7 linked regions of the Homo sapiens genome follow. The protein of the gene in region 4 purifies or fractionates together with the protein of the main gene of each other region. This does not show direct contact. Each region holds a gene or a part of one and is shown on either strand. Other genes may lie near its edges. The genes, in order: FLVCR1, GPN1, TBC1D15, AGFG1, SUCLA2, IPO11 and AZU1.

Region 1 (3,500 bases), on a different chromosome or scaffold from region 4:
TTAACATAATAGAATACTGTACAACAGAAAACTAATGAACTACAACAAAAAATATCAACATGGATACATCTCAAAACCATCTCAATATAGTGTAACAAGAGCAAGTTGCAGATGGATACAAATAATATTTATATACTTACAGAATACTTCTAATTGTTTATGAATATGCATATATGGTAATATATAAAATGATAAGCACCAAGCTCAAGCTAGGGCTTGACTTTGGTAAAGAATAGGATTGGGAAAAGTCTGAAAAATGAATCTGAAGCAAAGATGGAAAAATGTTAATGTTTGCCAAATCCGGGTGATATATGAGGATATTTGTTGTATTCTCTATGCTATTTTATATTCTTAAAATATTTAATAATAGATAAATAATAAACTTAAGTTTTAGCTTAATTTAGGTTAAGAGTCTTACCTAAATTCATACAATACATGCTAGGAGACATCAGGATTCAAACCTATCCTGTGCTTCTCATAGCCAGTTGTTTTTATTGTTCACTTCTAAAGTATCCTTTGGGAGGCGAGGCAGTAGAATTGCTTGAACCCAGGAGACGGAGGTTGTAGTGAGCTGAGATTGCACCACTACTCTCCAGCCTGGGCAACAGAGCAAGGCTCCATCTCAAAAAAAAAAGTATTAACTGATTTTGTCTTATGAATTTTCAGTAAGTCTTTGATACAAAAAGGTAAGATCTCTGAAGCACAGTTTCTGTTAGGCTTTGCACATTTGTTGGCTGTAGTAGTACATTGTAGGAATTCAGTAAACAATCCATTGCTTGACTGGTTGCCATATATGTGTTGCATGTGGGGGTATGATTTATGGTCAGTATATCTCAATCTAAATAATAATAGTATTAGGACAGAGTTCTGCTATTACATCTTTAGTACAGTTAGGTGTTAAATTCATTAGTCCAGGTTCTGAAAGGGAATGACAATGGTTTTTAATTTCCTTTATCAACTGTGTTAAGAAATGTATTTCCACAATTGTCACATAATATTCCATGTCACTTCATGAACTGGTAAATGACACACTTTTAGTATTCTCTTTATTATTGTAGGTATCATGACTTAATATCATCTTTATTTATTATTGTAGGTATCATGACTGGTGCCTTTTATTCAGTCTCAACGTTATTAAATCAAATGATATTGACATATTATGAGGTAAGCTTCTGCTTATATCAGATTGCATGCCTGGCCAAAAATTTTTCTTTAGCAATATAATTGTCGTTAGCAGGGTCATGAGATTAAGGGTTATGACATTGTTGCTATCAAATATTTACATTTGTTTTAATTGAGAATATATTTGTTAAAAAATGAAATTTCCACAACTTTATATATCTAATTGGCTTTTATTATCAATTCGTTTATTGGACAGCATCCCATCTAAAGATTTAGAAAGGTACTGATGAGCTGAGCAGAGGAGATGGGCTTTATAGGCAGAAAAAGGCTGAAGAAAGCAGAAACAAGGAACAAAGAGCAGATTGGTTGCTACAAAGTTACTTTCCTTATAGGAGTAAAACAAAGGGGACTGGGCCCCATCTGATAGGTTGCTATGAATCTCCTTTTTTTTTTTTTTTTGGAAAAGTGGCCCATTTTAAAGTTCAGTTTGATTATGTGACACCTAGCACTAGTGACACCATTCTATGTGGTCTGGTCTGTTGGGCCTACTGTGGGAGCTCACTCCAAAACAATGGCCTCCCATCATTTTAATTTAACATATTTAATCCAGTTTATAAAGCACATAGTATGGCCAGGCATAGTGGCTCACGCCTGTAATCCCAGCACTTTGGAAGGCCGAGGCGGGTGGATCACCTGAGGTCGAGACCAGCCTGACCGACATGGAGAAACCCTGTCTCTACCAAAAATACAAAATTAGCTGGGCATGGTGGCGCATGCCTGTAATTCCAGCTATTCGGGAGGCTGAGGCAGGAGAAACACTTGAGCCTGGGAGGTGGAGGTGGCGGTGAGCCGAGATCGTGCCATTGTATTCCATCCTGGGCAATAAGAGTGAATCCCCATTTAAAAAAAAAACAGGCTGGGCGCCGTGGCTCACACCTGTAATCCCAGCCAAGATAGCGCCACTGTACTCCAGCCTAGTGACAGAGTGAGACTCCATCTCAAAAAAACGAAACAAAACAAAATACACACACACACAATATGGAAAGCAGAAGTTACTATCCCTGTGACAATACCTAAGTTTATTTTTAGGAAATAATATGATTGGTTATATGGAAAAAGACAAAACATTTTAAGGGAACTCAGCATAAATATAGATAAATAAATATCAAGTTTTGATTGACGTATCTGCTTTTGAAAGGATAAAGCAGTTGTACTATGTAAAAGCTATCGATTAACCTCCTTTTCAGATATCTATACAGTGTCATACCTTGCTTAGTGACAGGAATACCTTCTGAGAAATTCGCTAGGCAATTTCATTGTTGTGTGAATATCATAGAGTGTACTTACGCAAACCTGATGGTAGAGCCTGCTACATACCTAGGCTACGTGGTATAGCCTATTGCTCCTAGGCTACAAACCTGTATAACATGTTATGCTACTGAATGTTGTAGGCAGTTGTAATACAATGGTAAGTATTGTGTATCTAAATATATCTAAACAGAGAAGGTAGAATAAAAATACAGTATTATAATCTTACAGGATCATACTGTATATATGATTCAGAGTTGACCTAAATGTAATTATGGAGCACATGACTATCTATACTTAAGAATCCTAACAAAAATCATTGTACTTCTAACCATAGAGGATTAAGGAAAATTTACCTTTTTTATTTCTTCTATTATTTTAGGCTTTTTTTCTGGTTTTAAAATATAATGCTTTTATATATTCTTTACCTGCCCTCCCCTCCCACACTGACACATGTACTAAATCTTCCTACTGTGTGCTTAGTTTTATCTAATTATTTTCATTGACTATGAAAAGGTGTGGGAATGTGAAGAGTCTGAATTAGTTAATCCATTTATTTGATCAACTTCTTACGCAAATTTTTTTCAGGGAGAAGAAGTCAATGCTGGAAGGATTGGGCTAACGCTAGTAGTAGCTGGAATGGTGGGCTCTATTCTTTGTGGCTTATGGCTGGATTATACTAAAACATACAAGTAAGTGAAAGTAAATACATGTATGGTGTATAACCAAAGGTATTTTGATTTTAAAGGACAATTTGCTTTTTATTTCAAGAAATTTAAAACATGTTATTACTTAAAGATACGGATTCTAAACACTAGTAGGTTCTCTTCACTTAACAAGTGTTTCTTTTTTTTTTTTTTTTTTGAGACGGAGTCTCGTTCTGTCGCCCAGGCTAGAGTGCAGTGGCGCAATCTCGGCTCACTGCAACCTCTGTCTCCCGGCTTCACGCCATTTTCCTGCCTCAGCCTCCCGAGTAGCTGGGACTACAGGCACCCGCCACCATGTCCGGCTAATTTTTTTATATTTTTAGTAGAGACGGGGTTTCACCTTGTTAGCCAGGATGGTCTCGA
Region 2 (3,500 bases), about 200 Mb from region 4:
GCAGGAGAGAAAATTTACCCTGAGTGAGCTGTAAAACTCATCTAACACCAGGCTCATTGAACGAGTCAGGTTACTGACGTATGTAGTCTCTTGATTCAAGGCATCTTGGAAAGCCTCAAAATCCTGCATCCATTCCACTGCAAAGCTGTGGTCAATGATGTCAGTCTGTACCAGAGAGAAGTCAATTATGAGCAACCAGAGCCAACAAACGCAAAATTTATTCTTTTAATTAAGTGTTGACAGCAAAGAACATATCATCCATATATTTTCTTTCTCTGCTTCTATTTCCCCTCCATTGCAACAAGCCACAAAGAACCACAATCATTGTGTAGTCAGTGTAATTAAATGAAGATGTGTATTCTCTTGGTTGACCCTCCACTATCCACTGCCAAGTACCAGGACCAGAATGGACACCAGCACATTCTAGGCTCTGAAGTCAAAAGGTCTCTTGCATCCTAGCCATCAACCAACAGAGAAGTTTAGAATTTTTTAATTGCCACTTCCAGTAGACTAGTTGTCCCTCTCGTAATTACACAATCTTGACTCTGAGGGATAATCTACATACTGTGGTTGAAGTGCTACTCTACCTAGCCTAAAATAATTTTAGACAAGAGTTGGTAATAATTGCTCATTCAATTTGATTGATTCATTTTCTCGAAGTGCCTATGAATTTGTTTCAGTAAAGCCTGAATCTGGTCTCCAGCATCTGAAATAATCTTTCTCACCCACCTAAACCTTCTAACCACAAGGTTCTGATGAAAAATGGTGAATCACAACAGGAAGAATACACTTACTTTATTCATGACCACAATGAAAGGCAGCTTGGTTTTGTATAAGATGCTGAAAACCAAACATTGAGAAGTTATTAGTAAAAGCACATAAGCTCTTGCTCATCCAGTGTCAGCATGTCGGGACTAAGTAAGAGAACAGAAATGAGTTCAGAATCTAAAAAGTAGTCATCCATTTTTACATAACATCATATAGTCTCTGCCAACAGGAAAACAACTACCACCCAGAAGCAACACACACACTCTCACTCTTGTTTGAAGTAATAATGCCTTAATATTGAACTTGTTTTTGTTTTGTTTTTTAACCAAATTGGTATTTTTCAGAGAAGGAAATGAACATTTACTGAATACCTATTACAGGTTGAGAATTTCCTATCTAAAATACTTGGGACCAGAAGTGTTTTTTATTTCAGATTTTGGAATATTTGTAAATACTTATTGGTTGAGCATCCCAAATCTGAAAATCCAAAATCCTCCAATAACCATTTCCTCTGAGTGTCATGTCAGTGTCTAGAATGTCTCACATTTTGGAGCATTTCAGATTTCAAATTTTTGGATAAGGGATGCTCAATCTGTATAGTCTAGGCACTGTGCTAATAAGCACTTTCATAAGTATTATCTCCTTTATTCTTTACAAATAACATGTAAATATATACAATTTTTATTTGTCAATTATACCTCAATAAGGCTGGGAAAAGAATATTAAAATTTTTTTCAATCTGTAAAGTAACATCTTAAAAATGTTTCTACCCCTACCTTTATTGAGGTATAGTTGACAAATAAAAATTATATATATTTAAGGTGTACAAAGGGATATTTTGATACACAGTTGACCCTTAAACAACATAGGTTTGAACTGCAAGGTTTACTCATATGCACCTTTTCTTCCACCTCTGCCACCCAGAGACAGCAAAACCCAACCCCTACTCTTAGACTACTCAAAGTGAAGACGATTAGGATGAAGAGTTTTATGACGATCTACTTCACTTAATGAACAGTTAATATATCTTCCCCTTATTTTCTCTAGCTTTATTATATGAATACAGCATATAATACATATAATATATATGTAATGTGTGTTAATCTACTGTTTATGTTACCAGCAAGGTTTCCAATCAACAGTAGGCCTTTAGTAATTAAGTTTGGGGGGAGTCAAAGTTTTATATTTTGTAGAGATGGGGTTTCACCATGGTGCCCCGGCTGGTCTCTGCAGGGGTTGGCGCCTCTAACCCCCAAATTGTTCAAGGATCAACTGTATGTTTCATCATGAAATGATTACCAGCTGGGGGTGTGACTCATGCCTGTAATCTGAGCACTTTGGGAGGCCACGCTGGGAGGACTGCCTGAGCCCACGAGTTCAAAACCAGCCTGGGCAGCATGGCGAGACCCCACCTCTAAAAATAAATTAATTAATTTTTTTAAAAAGAAATGATTAACACTATCAGGCAAATCAAATAATTTTCTTTTAAACAATTAATATGAAAATGGGCCAGGCACAGTGGCTCATGCCTGTATTCCCAGCACTTTGGGAGGCCAAGGCGGGCAGATCACTTGAGGTCAGGAGTTTGAGACCAGCCTGGCCAACAAGGTGAAACCCCGACTCTACTAAAAATACAAAATTAGCCAAGTGTGGTGACTACTCAGGAAGCTGAGGCAGGAGAATCACCTGAACCCAGTAGGCGGAAATTGCAGTACGGTGAGATTGTGCCACTGTACTCCAGCCTGGGTGACAGAGCAAGACTCCGTCTCGAAAAAATATAAATAAATAAATAAATAAATAATTAATATGAAAATGAAATAATGCTGTCAATCTTCAGATTTCTATTTGGATCACAATTTCTTGCATCCACCAAAAAGGGACATCCCTTGTCATATCAGAAAAGACAAATGTTGGTGATGGCATTTGTGTACCCTCAAAATTAAATTCTCTCAGCTTTAATAACTGTCAGCCTTGCTCCTCAGTCTTAATGCACTAATCTAGTGAGGCATGCCCTTCCTCTGCTAATGGTGCCACATTTGGGGCAAACCAGTGCATTTTATTTTTTTGAGACAGGGTCTCACTCTGTTGCCCAGCCTGGAGTACAGTGACATCATCACAGCTCACTCCAACCTTGGCCTCCCAGGCTCAAGCAATCCTTCCACCTCTGCCTCCCAGGTAGCGGGGATTACAGGCACACACCACCATCCCTGGCTAATTTTTTGTATATTTTGTAGAGATGGGGTTTCACCATGGTGCCCAGGCTGGTCTCAAACTCCTGGGCTCAGGCGATCCTCCCACCACAGCCTCCCCAAGTGCTGGGATTATAGGCATGAGCCACCATGCCTGGCCACCTGTGCATTTTACAATTATGGATAAATCTTCTTATTCATGGTATCTCCTCATGTTACAATTTCACTCTACCAGCATCATTTAGGCCAGAGGACTCTATTCTTCTCTCTCTCTCTCGTTGCCCCAGGCTCTTGTTGCCCCAAGCCGGAGTGCAGTGGCACAATCATGGCTCACTACAGCCTCAACCACCTGAGCTCAAGCAATCCTCCCACGTCAGCCTCCCAAGTAGCTGGGACTACAAGGGCGTGCCACCACGCTGGCTAATTTTAAAACATTTTTTGTAGAGACAGAGTCTTGCTATGTTCCCCAGCCTGGTTTCAAACTCCCAAGCTCAAACGATCCTCCCACCTTGGCCTCCCAAGTGTAGGGATGACAGACCCAGC
Region 3 (3,500 bases), on a different chromosome or scaffold from region 4:
TATAAAACTTCCAATGATGGCCTGCTGAAAGCAACAGAAACTGTATTTTGTTTTTCTCCTCTAGCAAAGGAGCTATGTCAGATATACCTTATTAAAAGAGTTCTGGTGACCACAGCAAACATTTTAGAATAAATTTTCTCACCTCTAATTTAGCAAAAGTTTTAATTAAAAAGCAAAAATGAGGCAGAAAAACAGATAAATTCAACTTTTAGACAGAATGAACTTTTGCACAATCCAACTCAAGAACATCCTTCCTGACACAAAGAGCTGGAAAAAATAAGGAAGTTTCACAATACAGTAGTAATTTTTTATACTGTCCCTACACTTAATACTGAATTTTTACTTATATTATGATTATTATAATTTTTATTTATTTCCAAAAATGGAAGATAAAGGAAAAATTCAACCCAAATATTTTAAATGTAGCAGTAAGTTCAGGGTAAAATTATTGCCCTAAATCATTCTCCAAACTTGGAAACCCATCACCTATCATACACAACATGCATTCTTAACTTTAGCAATTATGTGAACTTACAGGCTAATATAACAACCAAAAAAGGTACAAAAGTTCAGTTTCTTTCAAAACTATTTGGCATACAGATGATAATTTGAGCATATGGTTCCAGAAAGCATCCCCAGGAAATGCGAGACTGAGCATCCTAATGGGCTCCACACCCAAATATCTAAGCACCTACTTGGTATCTCCATTTCAATAAGGCATCTTAATCTCATGTGTTCTATCTAAACCTGCTCTTCTTCTATATTCCCAATTCTGTCAAAGATATCTCATCCACCCACTTATTCTAAATGCTTCTTTCACCATCCAGACCCTATAACCTAAGTCCCTCGAACCTTCTCCTCTGACACTGGCCCCTTATCATTTCTAGCCTAAGTCACTAAAATAACATTCTGATCTCTCTTCTTCTGATCTAGTCACCTTCCAATAATCTGCCTAAGGTGCATAATGTATAACCACTGCCCAAACTAACCTTTACAAAATGTCCATCTGGTTATACCACACAGGGGCTTAAAAATCTTCTGACTTCACCCTTTACCTCTACAGTGAGGCTATACTTCCTGATACTCCCCAACACATAAAACATTTCTGCCTTGGGCCATTGTGAACTCTGTTACCCAAAAGCTTTGTACCTTTTTTCAGGTGTATTCTGTTCCATCTACCTGGAACACCCTTTTATCCTTTCTCTCTGCAAATAACTTCTACTAAATCCTTCAGAAAAGAACATAAGCAATAGCCTGCCCAAATTCTTTGAACTACTCTCCATTCCACTTAATCTGATTTAGAAGTTTCTTTACTCATGCATTCAGCACATTTATGAGCACCAACCACATGCTGGAAATAAAAGGTGTCAGTGGCAAAAACACACACAAGGAAAAGTGTCTGACTAAACTAGCAGTATTATGTAAGCCAGTAAATCAATGTATATAGTAGAGTGTAATAGAGGAATGCAGAGAATCCTGAATGAGGTACCATTTTCAGTTACTTCTTCAATAAATATACAGTAAACGCCTACCATGTGCCAGGTACAGAGCAAGCTACTAGGTGTAAATAAGTAAGATTCAGTCACTGCCTCCACAGCAGTTACAATCTAATGGGATGACAAGAAAACAGACAATTACAACATGTAATTGTACCAACAGGCTGCCACAGCAAGCCCTAATAAATGCTATCTTACCTAGATTTAGGAGGCTCAGGCAGAGTGAGAATCAGGAAAACTTACTTAGAGCGACATATAAACTGAGATCTAAATAATGGCAATTTTAATTAGTAGAGGGTATAGGGAAGCAGAGGATATATGTTCTTAGCAGAGGATATATTTTATACAGAGCAGTAGTTCACTGCATGATTGAAACCCAAATACCAGAGAGTAGAGTCTAAATAGTTTAGAAACAAAAACAGAGACCAGATCAGATCATAAAGGGCTGCATAAGCCATGCTAAAGAATTTAGGAGTTTGAAATTTATCCTGAAGACAGACAAACGCAACTAGAAATTTGCCTTTTCTAAGCCAATAAAGTGGCTGCAGGGCCAAGAACGAACAGCTGCAGTAATCCAGAGAGGGAGAGACTCATGGTTGCTTGAACTAAGGCAATGGTAGTGGGGATGAGGAAAGGCAGATGGCTTAGAAAGATATTTAGAAGATCAAAATGACAAGACTTCATGACTGATTAGATGTGAGAGGTGAAGGGGAGAACAGTCAAGGACAAAACTGTGTAGATGAGGTTATTTACTGAGAGGGAGAACAGAAAGAAGAAAGCTGAGTTTTATTTGGGATGTGTTAATGAGTAATGACTATGGAACTAAAAAAAATGCACAATACAGGTGGTTGTAAGGGCAATACATCACAGATAGTCTGAAGTGAAGAATGTTTTGAGATATAGAGAATGGTACAACTCTCAAGGAAGAGCAACTGGCAGAACTATTATTGCTTCTCAAGGATATTGGTGTGCCAAGCGAAGTCAGATAGGAGACGTGAATAATTTAAGAGTTGGAGGAGATACACAGTCAGCGCTGCAATGAACCATGATCACACCACTGCACTCCAGCCTGGGTGACAGAGCAAGACTGTCCCAAAAATAAATTAACAATAATAATAATAATAATACAAGTCTGTGTTTAACCACCCTTGTATCCAAAGAACTCAGCACATAGGAGGTACTAAAACGTTTGTTGAACTAAAGAATGCCAGAAAAATTTAAAAATAAGACATACTCCTATTATACCCTAGTTAACTACCATGTTAAAAGATCCAGTCTAGGAAAACAAGTCTCCAGGAAAATCTAGATACTAAGAATATTCATCTTTCTAAAGCACAAAAATTTTATAGGACTATGAGCATATTTAAAAAGAATTGGTTAGGGCCAATTTTAAGCTACAAAATAAATTGTTACTAAAAATGACATCACAAATTCTAATTAAGAAAAAAAAACAGCTGATTTCCCTATTGTTTCAAGTAATTTTCTTTTTCATTTTTTGAAACACAGTATGCCCTTCGCCCAGTCTGAACAAGTGGCACAATCTCAGCTCACTGCACTGGTTTCAAGCGATTCTCCTGCCTTAGCCTCCTGAGTACCTGGGACTACAGGCGTGTACCACCATGCCCGGCTTTTGTATTTTTAGTAAAGACAGAGTTTCACCATGCTGGCCAGGCTGGTCTCAAACTCCCGACCTCAAGTAATCCACCCACCTCAGCCTCCCAAAGTGATGATTACAAGCATGAGCCACCGTGCCCGGCCAGTAATTTTCAATAGAAAGAAATTCTAATACACTAACAGGAAAACCTAGAGTGAATGAAGTGTACTACAATAGGATTTTACAACTCTGAAACAAAAGAGCTATTAATGGACCCATTTCTCCCACTCTAATCCCTCCTCATTTTCTTTTTCTTTTCTTTTTTTTTTTTTTTTTTTGAGACAGGGTCTTGGTCTGTCACCCAAGCTGGAGTGCAGTAGCACCATCATAGCTCACTGCAGCCTCCAAGT
Region 4 (3,500 bases):
CTTTACAAAGTTGCAGAGAAGTCAAAGAAACTCATATTAGCAATAGCAAAAAGAACAAGTATATATACATTTCAACCACTTAACCAACAATTTCTTAATGTATAACAAACCATTGGAACATAATGCTACTGGCATACAAGATTATGCTGCTGTCTTAAACAATTCTCAAATTCTTGATACTCAAGCCCTCTTTAAGTCGAATTCCCTACAAAGATTCAAAGACTACTCACCTGACTAGGTGTGCCCTTATTTAAGTGCAGTGTTGGTGCAGAATCCCCTAAAAGAGATTTCAGTGGTTTGACCTCAGGTGTGCTGCTTGTGCTACTGGCAGAGGACCCTGAAATAGATGCATGAACTGATGCCACGACTTTGGCTTGTTCTGGCGGGACATACCTAAAACATGTAAAAAACAGTTAACTAAAAAAAAATGTAGGTAATTCTATATCAAAAAATGATAAGCTTAATTCTAACTTTGTACAAGATTGTTTCACCATTAATCTTATCTGAAAACCCTCTCACACAGAATAACTTTGCATATTTTTTAAAAAAGGAACGACAGCTTAAGACTACACCCATTAAATATTTGAAATACTCAGAGAAAAGAGAAGACTAACCACAAAACTTGTTTCAATTACTTATTTATGGTTTTTCTAAGATATTAAGTACAATATAAGAAATAACTGCTTTTTTTAAACAGAGGACCTACAATTAGTCATCACCATGAATAGTTCATACTATAATTTTTAAAATTATCTTAAGATCTAAATAACATTTGAAGAAAGATGAGGTAGGAAAACATTTGTAATATTACAGTTAACAGCCTAAAATATAAAGGCTTATTACATCTGTAAGAATAAGATCATCCCATTTTAAATGAACAAAAGAAGCAATTCACAGAAGACAGGAGACACAAAAATGAAAACACTTTTAACCTGACAAAAATGCAAATTAAGGTTTTATTCACCTATGAGCTAAGTGTGAACTTTACAATTTTTTATTGCTACCTACTAAAATATATAAATAGGTGTGCTTTGTGCACCAGAAGTGCCACTTCCAGAAACATCCTTAAGAATTGGTAAGTGTATACAGATGCATGTACACATGGATGTTAACCACAGTCCTCTCTTTATAATTTCACAAAAACTGGGAAACAAACCCAACATCTATCAAGGAAAAAAAATTTACGATAATACAATACTCATAGCTACTCTGCTTTGACATGGAAAGAGGAAACTTCACAGGTCTTTCAGATTTGATTCCAGTCATATAAACACATGATTTATGTGAGGAGGCGAGTCAAGAAAGGAGAGGTAGCAAGGATATAATAATGTCCAAACATAGGCAATCCTGACCTCTAGGTGTGGGATTATGTGAGAGCTTTTGCTCTTTGTAATTCTGGGTTTTGTCCTACCCTCCTTCTTATTCCCCATATGAAGTAGGTGAGGAAAGAAGGAAAACCATGCTTAAGAGCACCTGTTCCAGAGACAAGAGTTCAAATCCCAGCTCTACCACTAAATGGCTGTGAAACCTTGGGCAAACTATTAATACTTCAACTCTTTGTGCTTCCATTTTTTTCATTTATAAAATGGAGAGGCAGAGTTGCCTAGGTTTAAACAAGTTAACATTTGTAAAGCACTGAGAACAATTCCTGGTATACGTGTTAACTAAGTGTTCACTGTCACTAAACTACATAATAATCACAAACAACTGCTTTCAAGTAAATGGGAGAGATAAAAGATGTATGAGAATGAATACAAGAAGTTATATTTTCCCATAATTTAGCATACTACTAATACAAATTCTTCAGTATAGCCAAGTCTTATCAAAGGATAAAATCAAATGATAGTTATTGGTTCAAAAGACTCACCTGGCAAAGTAATATGCTACCATATTTTTACTATCAACCCACCTTCTAGGATTTTCTTCTTTCCTGAACTTAAATTTTACTGGTGTATTTTAATCTATTTTCATACCTGATGTCTTCTAGTATAACACAGAAAGTGATTTTGAGAACTGGTCAAAAGAACAGTTTCAAAATCCCTTTGGATAACACCATCATCACTGTTTTAAGTATAGTTACAGTGAGTATTTTTAGAGATGCTGCATCTGGATAGTGCTTATTCCATGTTAGAAACCAATTTCACTGCTTGCTAGCTGTATGTTACAGGTGTGCAGCAGTCTGGATTAAAAACATACAGGTCCTGGCCCTCTTAATGATGGTCACCTGTCCCACCACTTGAAGTCTCTATTTGTATAACTCTTATTATCCTGTTTCTCAGGAAAGAAAAAAAATAACATAAACTGTAATTATTTGAGGTTTCTAGGTATTTGCGTTATAGTTTGAATGAATAATACATTACTGTTATAAATGTGGGGGTAAGGATCTATGATTTTAATTCTACCAACTGTTACTCACACTCACTTTTCTGTTGATAGCTAGAGCTGACCATAAACTAATCCCTAACCAAACTCACTTTCTGAATTGGTAAAAGTAACACGGCTGAGAAAACAAAACTAGGTTAGGGCTATGTAAGGAGAACAGTCTTTCCTACAGGGTAGAATGTCTAGGAAATTCAGAACCAAAATGATAAAAGGATAATTATACCTTTCATTTTAAAAGAATCATTTATGCTACCATATTTTTACTACCAACCCACCTTCTAGTATTTTCTTCTTTCCTGAACTTAAATTTTACTGGTGTATTTTAATCTATTTTCATACTTGATGTCTTCTAGTACAGCTGAATATAGCCCTGACTAATCTTGCCTTGCAAAAAGTAGTCTATTTTAGGCCGGGCACAGTGGCTCACAACTGTAATCCCAGCACTTTGGGAGGCTGAGGCAGGTGGATCACCTGAGGTCAGGAGTTCAAGACCAGCCTGGCCAACATGGCGAAACCCTGTCTCTACTAAAAATGCAAAAAATTAGCCAGGCGTGGTGGTGGGTGCCTGTAATCCCAGCTACTTGGGAGGCTGAGGCATGAGAATTGCTTGAACCCAGGAGGCGGGGGTTGCAGTGAGCCGAGATCGCACCATTGCACTCCAGCCTAGGTGACAAAAGCAAAACTCAGTCTCCAAAAAAAAAAGAAAAATGTAGTCTATTTTGGAAAGTAGTAAGAATACAAATTTTGATAGAGCATGCAAGTCAGAGCTAATGTGCTCCTGAATGAAGGTAAAGACCTCTGCTGTAAACCACAACAAATGTTCCCTCAGGACCAAAACAGGCTCTGAACAGATTCTCTTGGGTTGAAACAGAGTTCCTCAAGCAAACAAGAAGCTCGTTACTTCCCCATTATTTATTCCCTCTATTTTGACTCTCTGCCCCATCTTGTTAACCTCCCAAGATGAAAGTATCCACTATGCAATACTATTAAAGAAATAACCAAAAGTTCATAGTTAATGAGTCTTAGTAACTTAAATTGTGCTCATATAGCTAAAAATGAAGAACCCTCAGTAGCTGAACACTAGCTTTATAGATATAGTCCCTATTCCATAGCAAGGG
Region 5 (3,500 bases), on a different chromosome or scaffold from region 4:
GATTGCTTGAGCTCAGGAGTAAGAGACCAGCCTAAGCAACATAGTGATACCCTGTCCCTACCAAAAAAAAAACAAAAATCAAAAACAAAAAAAAACACATATGTTTTTTTGTGGTGTGTGCCTGTAGTCCCTGCTACTTAGGAGGCTCAGGTGGGAGGACTGCTTGAGCCCAGGAGGCAGAGGTTGCAGTGAGCATGATCATACCACTGCACTCCAGCTTGGGTGACAGAGTGAGACCCTGACTCAAAAAAAAAAACAAATCACTGTCATGGCAAGTATATGATCTAAGAATTGGTGCTTAGACCTCTATACTGCAATAACGAACAAATCAACTTCTACTGTGTTTACCTCAAAACAAGCAAACAAAAGCCATGAACCCAAATCATATTGGGAGATTTTTATTAACTTAAATTGACATTCTTAATTTTGTCTGTAAGTCCTTGGTATATATGCCTTTATTTGAAGCAAACCTACAGGTGTTTCTTAATATGACAGAATCATGAAGACTTGCAGTTAATCAGTGTTTCCTAATGATTAAAACAATGTTCAAATAATTACAAAGTTACTTCATCAAAATACTTAGAAGAATATTCTGAGGAGTGTTTGAAAGCTCTGTTTATAAATAGTGATTGATACATTTATCATGTATTTGGTGCTGAAGATAAACACTTTTTACATAAAACATTGTTTTAATATACTGCTCTACTAATGAGGCTAGTTATTAGATATACTGTATTTTAACACTAAAGAATAAAGCTTTATCTTCGTATTTATCTTATTTATAGGACTCTTATCAATGAAGAACTTTGTATCCAACAATAATAAACTGGCAAATTGCAAGTTACGTTTTGTAGGAGAAGCAAAAAAGACTGGCTGCGACAAAAGAAAGAAGATAACTGCATTATACATGCTTCGTACAAACAGTCCATTCTGAATGGTACAATTAAATGCAGTCCAAATCCTTTTAAATGTTTGTGTGCCTAGATGGCAATTACAATCTCCACACACTAAAAAGAAAAAGAACAATAACACAGAACACAGTATTCTTAATGATTATAGCACATTTAACACCTTCAGCCATCCACTGGGTTTTCAGATCATATTGGCAACTGAAATTTCACATCCACATGTGCTTGCTTCGCTAAGGTCACTATTTCAGAGAGCTTTACAACCTAAAAGAAAAGAACGAAGAATTTTCACAAAAAGGTAAATTCAGAACTACAGGTCAGTGCAAAATTAATGTACACTCAATTTTTTCCATTTAAAACATCTGGACTATTCTGACATTGCTATAAATCACATTACGTTCTTATAAGCAAATGACATTCTCAAAGGATAATCAAGTCTGACACTCCTCATAGTCCAAACTTCAATTAAATACTTTCTGATTAAGATGTTATACCACCTGCTAGGATTACACATATGTATTACATAAGATTATATATGTGTGTATAAAATGTGTGTGTATGTATGTGTGTGTGTGTGTGTGTGTGTATATATATATATATTATTCTAAATTTTATCTTAAAGACAGAAACAGTGAGTGTCTTTGTTGGATACTCCACAACTCAAAGCACATCTAAGTAAAAATTTGTTTTGAAATAAGTATACAATCTTAACTTAAAATGTTGGGATAGAAATTTGGGTCTACTAGTTAGTATTTTACTTTTTGTCAGTAAGTTAACAATTGCTAACCTGAGTTCCAATTCTCTCTACAATCTGTCTAAAAATATCCACCAGTTACCATACAAAACATCATACAAATTTAGACATGTCTAAGACCAAAAAAACAAACTCAGCTTCTCTCTTCCTCAGTAAATTAGTTAAGAAAAGGCTTTGAAGTTAGATATCTTTGGCTGCAAATCCCCCCTCTGATGCTTATGACATACAACCTTGAATAAGTTAACTTATCTAGCCTGTTTCTTCATCTATAAAAATGGAAATTTTATCACCAAATTCATATTAAATGAGATAATCCTTGAAGAAAACAGCTTAGCATTGCATGCACAGTAAACACTCAATAAACAGTAGTAACTGCTAATATCATCATCATCTCATTCAATATTATTATTGTTATGACTTCTATAATCTCCCAGTCAATAAAAACACTGTAGTCATAATTTAAATCAACTGTTCACTTTTACCTCTCATGATCTATTTGATCAAGGTCCTACTGGTTCTTCTCCTTCTTTTCATGTCCTCCAAGCTTTTCTTAATTTAAGTTTTCATTCCAAAAAAGTGCACTTTCAGAGACAAGTTATAACCTATTTATTACCTTCACCTTTTCTCATATCTAAGTATTGCACTAGATGGACTCCTACTATCTCTCCCCTTTTCCCTTCAATATATCCCACATCTCAAAGTCAAAATAGGCTTTCTGAAATACTTTCTCCTACTATTCCCTTGCTCAAATTCTTTATTTTTAATTCAGGTTTAAGTTTAAATTCTTCTGTCTCCAAGCTAGAGTTAAATTTTGTTTACTAGTAAGTACTTTCCCAAAGAAGGACATAAGACTTTTATTATTTTTGTGAAATGACATCACATTAACTCGGTAAATTCAAGAGTCTGGCCAAGCCTGGGGGCTCATGCTTGTAATCCCAGCACTTTGGAAGGCCGAGGTGGGAGGATCATATGAGGTCTGGAGTTCGAGACCAGCCTGGTCAACATGGCAAAACCCTATCTCTACTAAAAATACAAGGCTGGGCGCAGTGGCTCACACCTGAATCCCAGCACTTTGGGAGGCCGAGGCAGGTGGATCACAAAGTCAGGGGTTCAAGACCAGCCTGACCAACATGGTGAAACCGCATCTCTACTAAAAATACATAATTAGCCAGGCATGGTGGTACATGCCTGTAATCCCAGCTGCTTGGGAGGCTGAGGCAGGAGGATTGCTTGAACCTGGGAGATGGAGGTTGCAGTGAGCCGAGATCACACCACTGCACTCCAGCCTGGGCAACAAGACCAAAACTCTGTCTTAAAAAAAAAAAAAAAAAAAAAAAATTAGCTGGGCGTGGTGGCACACACCTGTAGTCTCAGCTACTCAGAAGGCTGAGACACAAGAATTGCTTAAACCCAGGAGGCAAAGGTTACAGTGAGCTGAGATCACGCCACTGTACTCCAGCCTAGGTGACAGAGCAAGACTCAGTCTCAAAAAAAAAAAAAAAAAAAAAATCAAGAATCTACTATTGATTAAGCTATAGAGCCCAAAGAGTGTTCGAGTGTTCAATGAAATGTCTATAAACATAATGGAAGGGAAGACAAAAAATTCTCATCTCTCTGTATCTACTATGAAGTGTTCTCTGATACACATTATTGTTAAGTAAAAGAAACAAAGTATAGATTACCATTAATCTAAAGTGGGAAAAGGGAGACACACACACACACACACACACACACACACACACACACACACAAAGTCCCCCCCTTATCCAATTTCACTTTCTACAGTTTCAGTTACCTGCAGTCAACTGTGGTCCAAAAATTTTAAATGAGAAATTCCA
Region 6 (3,500 bases), on a different chromosome or scaffold from region 4:
AGGCAGACCTGTGAGAGGAAGACCTGTCCGAAAAACTTGAGTATTTCTGTCTCACCGGGAGTTTTTAGTAAAATGGCACTGATAAACTGCAATAAGTCTCTTGCCTGTTTGGTATATACAAGAGTTCCCCGTGACTAATCTCCCCCTAATAAGAAAAGTTATACATTATCCTAAACAATATTGACACCCCCTACCTGATCAGTGCCCAGCTGTGAGGTACCAACTACTGTCAACCATCACCCTCTGGTGTCTCCTTAGCTGAAAAACAAAAATACATGTCTGTACAAAACCCACTAAGGAACAGCAGTTATGCTTATTGCTTTTAAAGGTCCTTCTCTGGCTGGGCAGTGGCTCACACCTGTAATCCCAGCACTTTTGGAGGCCGAGGCAGGCAGATCACCTGAGGTCAGGAGTTTGAGACCAGCCTGGCCAACATGGTGAAACCCCATTTCTACTAAAAACACAAAAATTAGCTGAGCATGGTGGTGGGCACCTATAATCCCAGCTACTAGGGAGGCTGAGGCAGGAGAACTGCTTGAACCCAGGAGGTGGAGGTTGCAGTGAGCCAAGATGGTGTCACTGCACTCCAGCCTGGGCAACAAGCAAGATTCCATCTCAAAAAATAAATAAATAAAGTTCCTTCTTGGATATGAAAAAAAATAGGAAGGAAAAGCTATAAAACTGATTTTGATTAAGGCACTGAATAGAGATAACAACACAGCCTAGATTAAATTTAACAGACTATAATTTATAACTAGCAGTTAGGCAAAACTTTTTGCTGAGTGTAAGAGATCATCAGTCCTCTCTCCAAATATAGACATCTTCGATTGGTAGTTTCCATTTACTGGTTGAAGACATCACTGTCTATAAAGCTGTATCTTATAAGAATCTCATTCTTGCTATAAAGAGCTCAGCCTGTCATTGTATTTATAAAAACCCATTTGTTCAAACATGCATGTGCTGTATGCCAAGTAATAATCCCACAGTTAATCACTATTCTACATTTTATCATTAAAATAATTTTTCTCTCAGTTGTGAGTCCATATAAGTTAACAAGTAAATAAATATAATTTTCCTATCACCTTGGAGCCACCCATATCAGTTCTCTACACAGTTTAAGTATTTTGTTTTACTGACCAAGACACTGTGGCCAAAAGATAAGGAGATAAACTGACTTCTCTAAGGTCACAGGCTCATTAGTGACATTTCTAGAACTTTAAATGTAAGTCTCCTGTCCCCACCCAGTACTCCCGAAAGATTAAACACTTTTACTTTTGTTCAGTGCTGTCCATTAATATCTCAAGTGAAATTAACTGGGAATTTTTAGCTTTAGACTTGAGAAAGAACAAAAATACATCAAGTTCACAGCCTATCTGCCTAATGAATTATACTACATCAGAACTGAAGACTGAAATTGATGGAGTCATTGAAGATACCCTACACAAGGTTAACAAGGTGAAGATTAAGAGAAGAAATGTTATTAATACATAACTAAAACAAAGGTGTATTATACAGAATATACAAGGAACCCTTGTGAATCAACAAGACAAATATATAAGAAAAGTGAACAAAGGGTGTAAGCAGAAAATATATAGAAAAGAAGAGCTAAATGTTTAATTAATATCAGAAGAGATGCTATCTCACTGGTTATCAGGGATTTAAAATCCAAACAGTGAAAAACTACTTTATGATCAGACTAGCAAAAATTACAAAGTCCAAAAATATTCAATGCTGGCAAGAATGCATGGAAACAGAAACTCTTAAACACTGCTACTGGGAATATCTATTAATACAACTTTGGAGAGCTATCTAGCTGTCTCTAATGAAATTGAGTATATATTTTGTGTATTCTATGACCAGGACACACAGAGGGTCACACACCACATAAAAATGGCGGCTCACGCCTGTAATCCAACACTTTGGAAGGCTGAGGCGGGTGGATCACTTAGAGTGCAGGAGTTCAAGACCAGCCTGGGCAACATGGAGAAACCCCATCACTACTAAAAAAACAAAAAGTTAGCTGGGCATGGTGGGGCACACCTGTAGTCCCAGCTACTCAGGAGGCTGAGATGGGAGAATCACCTGAGCCCAGGAGGTCAAGGCTGCAGTGAGCCACGATCGTGCCACTGCACTCCAGCCTGGGTGACAGAGTGAGACCCTGTCTCAAAAAAAAAAAAAAAAAGTTTCAGTCAGATATGGACCACATATATACGACAGTGATCCCGTAAGATTTTAATGGAGCTTTAAAATTCCTATCACATAGTGACATCATAGCCATCCTAAGTCGTAGTAAATCACATTACTCACACGTTAGTGGTGATGCTGGTGTAAACTAACCTACTGCACTGCCATTTGTATAAAAGCAGAGCACATACAATTAGGTACAGTACATAACACTTGAAAGTGATAATAAGCAACTATGTTACTGGTTTATGCATTTACTACATTATACTTTTTTTTTTTTTTTTTTTGAGACGGAGCTTCACTCTTGTTGCCCAGGCTGGAGTGCAGTGGTACGATCTTGGCTCACTGAAACCTCCATCGCCCGGGTTCAAGCAATTCTCCTGCCTCAGCCTCCCAAGTAGCTGGGATTACAGGTGTGTGCCACCACGCCTGGCTAATTTTTGTATTTTTTTAGTAGAAACAGGGTATCACCATGTTGGCCAGGCTGGTCTCAATCTCCTGACCCCGTGATCCACCCGCCTTGGCCTCCCGAAGTGCTAAGATTACAGGCGTGAGCCACCACGCCCAGCCTACTTTTTTTAAGAGTTACGATCTCTGTCACCTGAGGTAGAGAGCAATGCCGGCATCATAATTCACTACAACGTTGAACTCTTGGGCTCAAGCAGTCATTCCACCTCAGCCTCCTGAATAGTTGAGACTTGGGACTACAGGGATGAGCCATCATGCCATGCTAATTTTTTTACTTTTTGTAGAGATGGGGTCTGGCTATGTTGCCCTGGCTGATTTCAAACCCCAGACCTCAAGCAATCCTCCCACCTCAGCTTCCCTAAACCCTGGGATTACAGAAGTGAGCCACCAAGCCCCACTACTATACTTCTTATCATAATTTTACAATGTACTACTCCTATTAAAAAAAAAAGTTAACTGTAAAACAGCCTCAGACAGGTCCTTCAGGAGATAATTCAGAAGAAGTCATTGCTATCATAGAAGATGACAGCTCCATGAATGTTATTGCCCCCGAAGACCTTCCAGTGAGACAAGATGTGGAGGTGGAAGACAGAGATATTGATGATCCTGACCTTGTGTGTACCTGAGTTAATGTGTGTGTTTGCGTCTGTTTTAAACAACGTAGAACTACACAATGTATTTGTGTTTTAAGCTAAGTGTTACTGCAACAGAGACAAAAAGTTTATAAACTAAAAGTTACAATAAGCTAAGATTATTGAAGAAAAAAATTTCTTAATAAATTTATTTTAGCCTAAGTGTACAATAATGCCCTAGGCCTTCACTTTCACTCACCACTCACTCACTGATTC
Region 7 (4,096 bases), on a different chromosome or scaffold from region 4:
AAGTGTCAGCGACATTAACTGTAGTCTGTAAGTGGTTTGCGTTTAATTCCCGGCAGGGGCCGGGTGCGGTGGCTCACGCCTGTATTCCCAGCACGTTGCGAGGCCAAGGTGGGTGGATCACTTGAGGCCAGGAGTTCGAGACCAAACTGGCCAACAAGGTGAAACCCCCGTCTCTACTTTTTTAAATTTTTTAATGATATTTTTGAGATAATTTTATCATTTTCTCAAAGAAAAAAACCAAACATGAAAAACATTCACATGATTCTGTCATAGCAAAAGCATTTGAAAACGACGTCAGTCTCCACCAACAGGAGGCTCCATACGCGAACCGTGGTACATCTGTATGTGTTGCTGTATTGTTTTTGGAAGTTTTTTTTGAGATAGGGTCTGGCTCTGTTACCCAGGCTGGAGTGCAGGGGCGCGATCTCGGCTCACTGCAAGCTCCGCCTCCCGGGTTCAAGCGATTCTCCTGCCTCAGCCTCCTGAGTAGCTGGGACTAGAGGCGCCCGCTGCCATGCCTGGCTAATTTTTGTATTTTTAGTAGAGATGGGGTTTCACCATGTTGGCCAGGCTGGTCTCAATCTCCTGACCTCGTGATCCGCCCACCTCGGCCTCCCAAAATGCTGGGATTACAGGCATGAGCCACCTCACCCGGCAAGATACACACACACACACACACACACACACACACACACACACATATATATTTTTGTAGAGACTGAGTTTGGCCATGTTGCCCAGGCTGGTCTCGAACTCCTGACCTCAAGCCGTCCTTCCGCCTCGGCCTCCTGAAGCACAGGGGCCACAGGTGCGCGCCACCACTCCCGGCTAATTTTTGTATTTTTTTGTAGAGACCAAGTTTGGACTTGTTTCCCTGGCTAACGTCGGCCTCCCGAGGTGCTGGGATCACAGGTGGCACCATCCTCTCACCTGAAGCAGCATCAGGTCGTTCAGGTTCTGCTGGGGGTCGTAGCCATTCTCGCTCATGCTGCTGATGGAAAACGTCTGGCGGGACTGCCTCTCCCGCCGCCTCAGGTCATAGGCACCCAGCACCACGGTGCTAACCCCGGGGTTCCTGAGAGTAGCGGAGGAAAGGGCAGAGGGAGGACACCAGGCTGGGGCCTGGGCACAGAGCAAGCCGGCTTGCAAATTAGGGGGGATCCCAGCCTGCAGACTGCAATCCTTCACCCTGAAAACTCCCCCGCTTTTACAGAAGCAGAGCCGAGACTTTCCAGGGCCCCCTTCCCATCTTGAGCCCCTTCCCTTCTCTGCGCCTCCTCCTCCATCTGAGCCCCTTCTCTTCTCTGCGCCCCCTCCTCCATCTGAGTCCCTTCCCTTCTCTGAGCCTCCTCCATCTGACCCCCTCCCCTTCTCTGCACCTCCTCCATCTGAGCCCCTTCCCTTATCTGGGCCTCCCCCATCTGACCCCCTTCCCTTCTCTGCACCTCCCCCATCTGACCCCATTCCCTTATCTGGGCCTCCCCCATCTGACCCCCTTCCCTTCTCTGCACCTCCTCCATCTGACCCCCTTCCCTTCTCTGCGCCTCCCCCATCTGAGCCCCTTCCCTTCCCTGGGCCTCCCCCATCTGACCCCCTTCCCTTCTCTGCCCCTCCTCCATCTGAGCCCCTTCCCTTCCCTGGGCCTCCCCCATCTGACCCCCTTCCCTTCTCTGCACCTCCTCCATCTGACCCCCTTCCCTTCTCCGCACCTCCTCCATCTGAGGCCCTTCCCTTCTCTGCACCTCCTCCATCTGAGGCCCTTCTCTTCTCTGCACCTCCTCCATCTGAGCCCCTTCCCTTCTCTGCACCTCCTCCATCTGAGCCCCTTCCCTTCTCTGGGCCTCCCCCATCTGACCCCCTTCCCTTCTCTGCACCTCCTCCATCTGAGCCCCTTCCTTTCTCTGGGCCCCCTCCTCCATCTGAGCCCCTTCCCTTCTCTGGGCCTCCCCCATCTGACCCCCTTTCCTTCACTGCACCTCCTCCATCTGAGCCTCTTCCTTTCTCTGGGCCTCCTCCATCTGACCCCCTTCCCTTCTCTGGGCCTCCTCCATCTGAGCCCCCCAATATCCTTGGGTCCCTCCTCAACTCAGTCCCCATTTCCCTCTCCAAGCCCCCTCCTTTCCCTGAGCCCCTCCTTTTGCAATCCCCTCCCCTCCTCACCTACCAAGCACCCCCACTGAATGCCTAAGCCCCCCAAGCCCCTTCTCTGAGCCCCAATGCCCCCTAGGCCCCCTCCCCAGGACCCCTCACTGGCTTTGGAAGCAGCTGGCCGCGGTCATCACGAAGCGGGCATGGATCAGGGCACCCCCGCAGAAGTGCCTGCCTTGATTCTGAATGGAGGCCAGGAACGGGAACTGGCGGGGCCTCGCCTTCCGGCCGCCAACGATGTCCAAAAGGGGGCTGGAGCCTGGGTCGGGGGGAGACAGCTCTGAGATCCCCAAGAATCCACACAGTGGCCGGGAGGGCGTGTGAAGCTGCAGCCTCAGCTCTATCCACCCAGTGGGGCTGCGGGGGGACCCACCCTCCCCCATCGTCCCACTCCCTAAGAGGACAGGGGGCCCCTGAGTCCCGCACACCGTCCGCCCTCACGCCTTTCGCGGGATCGTCCAGGCCGGGCTGGCTGTGTGACCCAGGCCAAGCCGCTTGCCTTCTCTGTGCTTTAAGTCTGAGTTCTGCCCTGGCAGCCGGGCCCTAGCACAGATGGGGGACCACCGGCACAGAGAGGCACTCACCGGCCCTCGAGGACGCCAGCAGACCAGCCAGCAGGGCCAGGACTGTCAGCCGGGTCATGGCGGGGCAGGTCTGTGGCTAAGGCGGCGGCTGCCCTTATACACAGGCCTTGGCAGTTGGTGGCGTCCCCGCCCAGGCCCAGGGACAGCCCCACTCAGTGGGAACACGGGAAATTGCCCAAGGCCTCCACCGCCAACTGCTCCCTGGGCCAGCCTGGGCTCCCCCTACATTCTGCACTGATCCTCAGTTTCCCTCTCTAGAAGATGGCCACACCCCCAGGGGCAGGTGAGGGTGTCAGGAACCAGTGGATCCCGGAGCCCAGCACATGGCGGGCATGCAGCCAGCACCCAGGAACATTGCCAGCTCAGAGTCCCAGTCTCCCCATCCCAAGCCACTGGGGCTCCAGCACTGCCCGCTGGGCCTGGCACCGGGGGGCTCAGGGCAGTGGAGCTGGCAGTCCTGCGTTGAGTCCTGCGCGTCTGTATGGGTGATTATTATTATTATTATTATTATTATTATTTTGAGACGGAGTTTCGCTCTTGTTGCCCAGGCTGGAGTGCAATGGTGTGATCTCGACTCACTGCAACCTCCGCCTCCCAGGCTCAAGTGATTCTCCTGTCTCAGCCTCCTGAGTAGCTAGGATTACAGTTGTCCACCACCACGCCTGGCTAATTTTTTGTATTTTTAGTAGAGATGGGGTTTCACTATATTGGCCAGGCTGGTCTCAAACTCCCGACCTCAGGTGATCCACCCACCTCGGCCTCCCAAAATGCTGGGATTACAGGTGTGAAACACTGTGCCCGATTGGGTGATTTTTTTAAACTTTTTCAACAGCTTTATTGAGATATAATTGACAAGCTGGGTGCGGTGGCTCACACCTGTAATCCTAGCACTCTGGGAGGCCGAGGCAGGCAGATCACCTGAGGTTGGGCGTTCAAGACCAGCCTGACCAACATGGAGAAACCCCATCTCTACTAAAAATACAAAATTAACTGGGCGTGGTGGCACATGCCTGTAATCCCAGCTACTCAGGAGGCTGAGGCAGGAGAATCACTTGAACCTGGGAGGCGGAGGTTGCAGCGAGCCGAGATCGCACCATTGCACTCCAGCCTGGGCGACAAGAGCAAAACTCCATTTCAAAAAAAAAAAAGAAATTAGCTGGGCGTGGTGGCGGGCGCCTATAGTCCCAGCTACTTGGGAAGCTGAGACAGGATAATCGCTTGAACCTGGGAGGTGGAGGTTGCAGTGAGCCGAGATTGCGCCACTGCACTCCAGCCTGGGTGACACAGAGAGACTCCGTCTCAAAAAAAATAAATAAAAACAAATTAAAAACTATATAAAAATAAATAGACGAAATGTCCAGAAC

What was found.
Region 1: the proteins of AGFG1 (region 4) and FLVCR1 fractionate together in Homo sapiens (co-fractionation; one large-scale study listed by BioGRID). This does not show direct contact.
Region 2: the proteins of AGFG1 (region 4) and GPN1 fractionate together in Homo sapiens (co-fractionation; one large-scale study listed by BioGRID). This does not show direct contact.
Region 3: the proteins of AGFG1 (region 4) and TBC1D15 purify together in Homo sapiens (co-immunoprecipitation; one large-scale study listed by IntAct). This does not show direct contact.
Region 5: the proteins of AGFG1 (region 4) and SUCLA2 fractionate together in Homo sapiens (co-fractionation; one large-scale study listed by BioGRID). This does not show direct contact.
Region 6: the proteins of AGFG1 (region 4) and IPO11 fractionate together in Homo sapiens (co-fractionation; one large-scale study listed by BioGRID). This does not show direct contact.
Region 7: the proteins of AGFG1 (region 4) and AZU1 purify together in Homo sapiens (co-immunoprecipitation; one large-scale study listed by IntAct). This does not show direct contact.

Annotation. Positions count from the first base shown.
Region 1 is NC_000001.11:212,882,275-212,885,774, forward strand, and holds part of FLVCR1 (choline/ethanolamine transporter FLVCR1), read left to right. Parts: intron 1-1,096; coding exon 1,097-1,164; intron 1,165-3,018; coding exon 3,019-3,122; intron 3,123-3,500.
Region 2 is NC_000002.12:27,635,550-27,639,049, reverse strand, and holds part of GPN1 (GPN-loop GTPase 1), read right to left. Parts: intron 841-3,500; coding exon 795-840; intron 166-794; coding exon 19-165; intron 1-18. UniProt on the Homo sapiens protein: Small GTPase required for proper nuclear import of RNA polymerase II (RNAPII). May act at an RNAP assembly step prior to nuclear import.
Region 3 is NC_000012.12:71,842,759-71,846,258, reverse strand, and holds part of TBC1D15 (TBC1 domain family member 15), read right to left. Parts: intron 1-3,500. UniProt on the Homo sapiens protein: Acts as a GTPase activating protein for RAB7A. Does not act on RAB4, RAB5 or RAB6.
Region 4 is NC_000002.12:227,520,656-227,524,155, reverse strand, and holds part of AGFG1 (arf-GAP domain and FG repeat-containing protein 1), read right to left. Parts: intron 394-3,500; coding exon 231-393; intron 1-230. UniProt on the Homo sapiens protein: Required for vesicle docking or fusion during acrosome biogenesis. May play a role in RNA trafficking or localization.
Region 5 is NC_000013.11:47,942,274-47,945,773, forward strand, and holds the end of SUCLA2 (succinate--CoA ligase [ADP-forming] subunit beta, mitochondrial precursor), read right to left. Parts: intron 1,173-3,500; coding exon 1,098-1,172; 3' UTR 383-1,097; downstream 1-382. UniProt on the Homo sapiens protein: ATP-specific succinyl-CoA synthetase functions in the citric acid cycle (TCA), coupling the hydrolysis of succinyl-CoA to the synthesis of ATP and thus represents the only step of substrate-level phosphorylation in the TCA.
Region 6 is NC_000005.10:62,419,263-62,422,762, reverse strand, and holds part of IPO11 (importin-11), read right to left. Parts: intron 1-3,500. UniProt on the Homo sapiens protein: Functions in nuclear protein import as nuclear transport receptor. Serves as receptor for nuclear localization signals (NLS) in cargo substrates.
Region 7 is NC_000019.10:826,541-830,636, reverse strand, and holds the start of AZU1 (azurocidin preproprotein), read right to left. Parts: upstream 2,801-4,096; 5' UTR 2,791-2,800; coding exon 2,733-2,790; intron 2,408-2,732; coding exon 2,251-2,407; intron 1,076-2,250; coding exon 931-1,075; intron 1-930. UniProt on the Homo sapiens protein: This is a neutrophil granule-derived antibacterial and monocyte- and fibroblast-specific chemotactic glycoprotein. Binds heparin.